Regions from separate parts of the Homo sapiens genome. Here region 1 is linked to region 2. Evidence: fine-mapped expression QTL. Tissue or cell type: atrial appendage. Region 2 holds a variant in brackets; the other region holds the start of a gene. All regions are shown on one strand. Distances are from middle to middle. Region 1 holds the start of GGTA1 (glycoprotein alpha-galactosyltransferase 1 (inactive)). Region 2 overlaps GGTA1 (glycoprotein alpha-galactosyltransferase 1 (inactive)).

What was found.
Region 1: GGTA1 starts here. The variant in region 2 is fine-mapped to the expression of GGTA1 in atrial appendage (GTEx, PIP 0.97).

What each region holds. Positions count from the first base shown.
Region 1 is chr9:121,498,550-121,501,451 of GRCh38, forward strand. It overlaps GGTA1 (glycoprotein alpha-galactosyltransferase 1 (inactive)), which reads right to left and starts at 1,295. Exons shown (of 6, transcript NM_001382585.1): 1 at 1,101-1,295. RefSeq lists a silencer at 1,245-1,344.
Region 2 is chr9:121,477,547-121,480,448 of GRCh38, forward strand. The region is part of intron 1 of GGTA1 (glycoprotein alpha-galactosyltransferase 1 (inactive)); the gene reads right to left. Among named protein-coding and RNA genes, the nearest start is that of GGTA1, 21 kb to the right of the region's middle. The variant T/C (reference allele first, on the strand shown) is at 1,460.

The DNA of each region.
Region 1 (2,902 bases), 21 kb after region 2:
AATCGGGGAAACTGAGGCTCTGTCTGGGAAGGTGGTTCCTTACTGGCAGCAAGCGGCAGGCCAGGGCTGCACCCTACATCTCCTGCTTCCTCAGACACGCCTGTTTCCAGGTAAAGGAAGGAGGCAGCCCGGCCTGCTCAGGAGCCCGAAGGAGTGCAAAGGAAGAGCAAAGCCTCAAAACACCTGCCTCGGGTCTCGGTTCCTTCCTGCCGGAGGAGCGGCTCTCACACCCTCCGCGCCTCCCAGTCCCTCCCGGCCGCCACAGCGGGAAGATCGAGGAATCTCAAATCCCTCTGCTTCTCTGGCTCTTTGCGCGCTGACATTTTTTTCTTCTTCTTTTTACTGTTTTTTTTTTTTTTACTTTCTTCAAGAGTTTGTGCAATCATTGTGTTTAGCCGTTTTCCTGCCATTTCCAAACGCGGGGTGGTGTCCTTTTCGAGTAGGAGCAAGGTTTGAAGAGTTGGAGGAAACTCCCGCCTCCCATCGCCCCAGTGCTGCAGGCACCCCGGATGCCAAAGTTAGTGTCGGAAACTTTCCCCATGCTGGGCGTCTGACTGAGTCCTCGGCTCTCCGAAGCTCTCTGACATCTCCCTCTCTATTCCCTTCCTCCTTGGGGTTCCTGCGACCCTCACTTTATCCCCCCACTCCCAGATTCCCCTTCCCAGAGGCGCGCCCTTCCTATCTTGTCCTGGGCAAGAGCCATTCCTCTGTCCTGCCCCACAGGCAAGGACAGACCCCTCACTCACTGCGACTTACTTGGTCGCATCCTGTGTCCCCTGCGTCTCCCCTCTCTTCCCCCACCCCAACCCCGCGGACCCGTGGGGGAACCTCAGCTTGCAGCTCTTCAGGCTCCAGTCTTGGAAGGCTGGACAGAGGGAGGGACGGCCACAGGATGGGGACAGAGGGACAGAAACTGGGTCCGATTTGGCACCGAGGTAGCGACAAGAACAAAAGCAGGGACACAGGCAGGGCAGACACCGGGCAGCGCCGGAGCAGCGGCCCGCCTCCACTCCCTCACCACCCTCTCCCAAGCGCGGAGCCCCCCGTCCGTGTCCTGCTCGTGGCCTCCGGGGACCTGGGCGGCTCCCCGCGGGACCCACCTGATCCGCAGAACCAGGGCGCCGAGGGCCGGCGCGCGGTGAGCTGGGCTGAGCAGGACCGCGCCCAGCTCCCGGCCCCGGCGAAGCCCTACGCGCTCTGATCAGCCACCGCGCCGCCTCCGCCCGAGCGGAGGCGCGTCCTCCCGCCCGTGGGCCGGCCGGCCGGGCTTCTGCTCTGGGCAGAGCGCAGCGGGTAGGGGCGCGAGGAGCCGGCGAGCGCTGACAGCGGGCTGCGCCAAGCCGGTCCCCGCCCCGGACACAGACAGCTGGAAGGCCGGCGAGCGAGTGCGTGAGTGAGAGTGTGTGTGTGCCGGGGAGGCGGATAAAATCCCCGGTGAGAGTGGCTGGGCCTCTTTTGCCTTCTCGGGCCTGCACGTGGTGGTGGTGGTGTAGGTGATAGAGCAGGAACCCCGGGCGTTGGAGGATGGGGTGGGGTCTGTGCTGTGCTGCTGGGAGGGGCTGCGCTGCGCTGGCGCACGGCCAAACTCTGGGAAACTCAGAGCCTTGGAGATCTGATCCACCGTTTGTTTCCCGAGGAAGGAAGAGCGCGAATGTAGACAGCGGCAGGCCGGGGCTGGAGTCGCTCTTGCGAGAGTCCTGAGCTCTGGAAGTGAGGGCTGGGCGTTGGGCACCTGGTTCAGGGTCTGCCCGCGTTTGCGCACTGACTTCATGATCTGTGAGCCCAGAGTGTCTCAAACGGGGCTCTAAGGCAGCCCCTAGGCTGTGGAATAACTCTTTAGTAGAATTATGTAGAAAGGAATCCAAACATTCGATTTCAGAGTGTGCGCTTCTGTGCCCAGTGTGGCAGCAATTCACTCAGAGAGTTGCTGTGGCCACAACTGGCTGCCCTCAGTTCTCTTGTCTTATACTGATAGCGACAAGGTCTTCTCACTCCCGCTCATATCAATCTACTTTACAGGTGGAAAAGTCAGAACTTCATTTTGCCATTTGCCGTTGAACGTCATTTTCATAGACTAAGAAATTCGCTTCTTAAATAATTCGGCCGGGCGCGGTGGCTCACGCCTGTAATCCCAGCACTTTGGGAGGCCGAGGTGGGCGGATTGCTTGAGCTCAGGATTTCCAGACCAGCTTGGGCAACGTGGCGAAACCCCGTCTCTACAGAATATAGAAAAATTCCCCAGGCCTGGTGGCGTGCACCTGTAATCCCAGCTACTCGGGAGGCTGGAGACTGAGAAAGAAAAGAAAAAATAAAAAATAAATACAAATAAAAATCAAACTGCCAGGCCAGGCGAGGTGGTTCTAGCTTGTAATCCCAGCAGTTTGGGAGGCCAAGATGGGTGGATTACCTGAGGTCGGGAGTTCGAGAGTAGCCTGGCCAACATGGTAAAACCCTGTCTCTACTAAAAATACAAAAAATTAGCTGGGCATGGTGGCACACGCCTATAATCCCAGCTACTTGGGAGCCTGAGGCAGGAGAATCACTTGAACCCAGGAGGTGGAGGTTGAAGTGAGCCGAGATTGCGCCACTGCACTGCAGCCTGGGTGACAGAGCGAAACTCAGTCTTAAATGAATAGACAAACAAACAAACAAAAAAATCAAACTGCCATGAAAACTACTTTACCCAAAATTTTAGTTCACAGCCTTCATTGGATTATCTATTGGGGCAAACAAAGTAAAACCAGCGAGCTTGTATTGCTATCTCATGGCTACAGTTCCAAGCTATTGGATCTTTGTTTGTGTCGGTATATACATGTCTAGATGTGTTTATTTGTAGGTACACTTACTGTTATATCTTGTGCCTACCAAATTGGCATATAAATAAAAGAGTGCTCATAAATTA
Region 2 (2,902 bases):
TACCTAACATTGCATTTGCAACCTTGCTTTTTTTTTTTTTTTTTTTTGAGACGGAGTCTTGCTCTGTCACCCAGGCTGGAGTGCAGTGGCACAATCCCAGCTCACTGCAAGCTCCGCCTCCCAGGTTCATGCCATTCTCCTGCCTCAGCCACCCGAGTAGCTGGGACTACAGGCACCCGCCACCACGCCCAGCTAATTTTTTTTTTAATTTTTAGTAGAGACGGGGTTTCACCATGTTGGCCATGATGGTCTCGATTTCCTGACCTCGTGATCTGCTCGCCTCAGCCTCCCAAAGTGCTGGGATTTACAGGCATGAACCACCACGGCCAGCCCATTCTTCTTCTTAAAGAGGGCTCCCCAAATGGAATCAGCTTCAAACCCTGCAACACCTGTATTTTCCCCAGTCAAGCCAGGCCAGGCCAGACCCTGGGCTAAACCCCTTTTCAGGAGTCTCTTAGTTAAGCCCCATGACAACCCAGTGAAGTTACTCTATTATTATCCCCATTTCACAGATATGAAAACAGAGGCTCAGAAAGGTGAAGTAACTTGCCTAGTGTCACATAGCATAAGGTGGTGGAGTTGGGGTTCAAATCCAGGGAGCCAGGCTCTAGTGCCCTCTCTTTTAACCACTCTGTTGCTCTAGAAAACATGAAGTCTTCTGCATGGGTTAATTGCTGTGGGGCCAGCTCTTCCTTGGACCAGCTGGTGAGCATCAGCTCAACTCTCCTAGCATTTCCAGGCACCTTCTGTGTGCGTGTTGTGGGGTGTCCTCACTCACAGCATCTTGTTTATTCCTCACAATGGTCAGTGCGGTGGCCTTAGTGTGGCTTTTTTAGCTGAGGAAACTGAGCTTTAGCAAAGGGGCATAGCTTGCCAGAGATCACTGGGCATGCCCAGAAGTCTTGGTGCCAGATTTAAAATGCCTGCCTCCCAGGCCCAGCCCTTGGCATAGGGATGGTGCTGGGTGTAAGGAGGAAGAGTGCCTTATTATCCTAAAACCTCAGTGAGCTGGTGGGTCTTACAAGGAAATGCTTCCACGATACAATTCACGGGGAAGCAGGGGAAGTGCATGGAAGGTTGTCTCCAGTTTTGTTTTTCATTATAAGGGTCAGAGTAAACAGACACAAGAAAATAAGAGACAGGTCTCAGACTGAATACATGGCCCACTGTCGCTCCAGCCATCTCAAATGGAACGACCTGTTCTCTGAAGTATATCTTACAGTGCTTTCTCTCGAATCCCCTTTGGGAAATCTAAAGGCTGAATCCAGCCAGCTTTTCCATGCTGCCTGGTCTGGAAATCACTGCAAGGGTTTTTCCCAGAGAACCAAAGTAAGATAAATGAAAGATGCTACACAATTCTGAGAGGGCTCTGCCTCCATCCATAACTTCACCCTGAGCCCCAAGACTTGCCCCCTGCTCCTGCATTAACAACTTAAATCCTTCAGGAAAAACTCCAGGC[T/C]GCAGCTTGGCTGCAGCCCTGTGAGGTCCTACCAGGGGAGCAAAATAAAGCTGAACTTACAGTGAAGTCCCTGAGCCGGCATCCTTCTTCCAGGTCCACTGCTGGAGAGACAAGGACTTGGTCCTCTTCCAAAACTACTGAGGGGGCCACCGAGAGTTTAGGGCGATCCACCCGTGACCCCAGCATGGCAGAAGCAAATCATTTCACCATCTCACATACCTCCTGCCGCTTTCACCCCAGAGTAAAAGGCAAAACAACAAAGTTCTTTTGAGCTCCCTTCTGCAGAAGGAGGCAGGACTCAGAGAAAGGGAAGGTGCTGGTTTCAACTCCTGTCGAAAGAATAAACAGCTGTTTCAGGAGATGGGGAGTAGACAGAGCCCTCAGCAGCCAGGGGCTTTGTTCCTTGCAGGCCTTTGGGAAACGAGCTGTTTATCAGGCCTGTTGACTCAGAGCTGTGTGCCAAGGCAGAAATGTTCCTCTCTGGATCCATGAGCGGCCCAGCCTCCTTGCCAAGCAAAACCATGGTCCAAACTGGGCCTAGTATGGGAGGAGGAAAGGCCACCACCCACCCTTGAGAGGGACACCAAGGGGGCCCACATCACACACTACTGGATAAAAATGGAAACCATTCTGGACCCAAACAACTTCAAGTGACTGCTCCTAGGACCAGCCACCAGCCAATGGAGACGTTAAAACACACACACAAACACACACACACCACAGAGGAGTGGACAAAGGGCTATCTTGAGAGTCCTCAAGACTGGTGGAAATTCTACCTAAATGTTCCTCAAAGTTAAGTCCTTCCTCTACATCTTTTAGGCTTCAGAAGTCGCTGTTTGGTTTGAACACTACATTTTTATAGAATGTTACGGGATCTCCCACAGCACAAAGCACACTACAAGAACTTTAAAAGGTCACCAAGGCTCAACTCCGCTCTCTGGCTGAATAATGCTTAACCCTTCCCATACCCACCTCCTGCTCCCAAAATAGAATCTTGCAGCTGGAAGGGACCTAGGGGCAGTGGATTTTCTTTCTTTCTTTTTTTCTTTTCTTTTCTTTTTTTTTTTTGAGATGGAGTCTCACTCTGTCGCCCAGGGCGGAGTACAGTGGCGTGATCTCGGCTCACTGCAAGCTCCGCCTCCCGGGTTCAAGTGATTCTCCTGCCTCAGCCTCCCGAGTAGCTGGGACTACAGGCACATGCCACCACGCCCAGCTGATTTTTTTGTATTTTTAGTAGAGATAGGGTTTCACCACGTTGGCCAGGATGGTCTCGATCTCTTGACCTCGTGATCCGCCCGCCTCAGCCTCCCAAAGTGCTGGGATTACAGGTGTGAGCCACCATGCCCGGTGGGCAGTAGATTTTCCAATGTCGAAACAGCTAAAACTTTTTCAAAAAGCAAACAAAATCATTCTCAGAATCCCCACGACCTGAAACAGAGCACA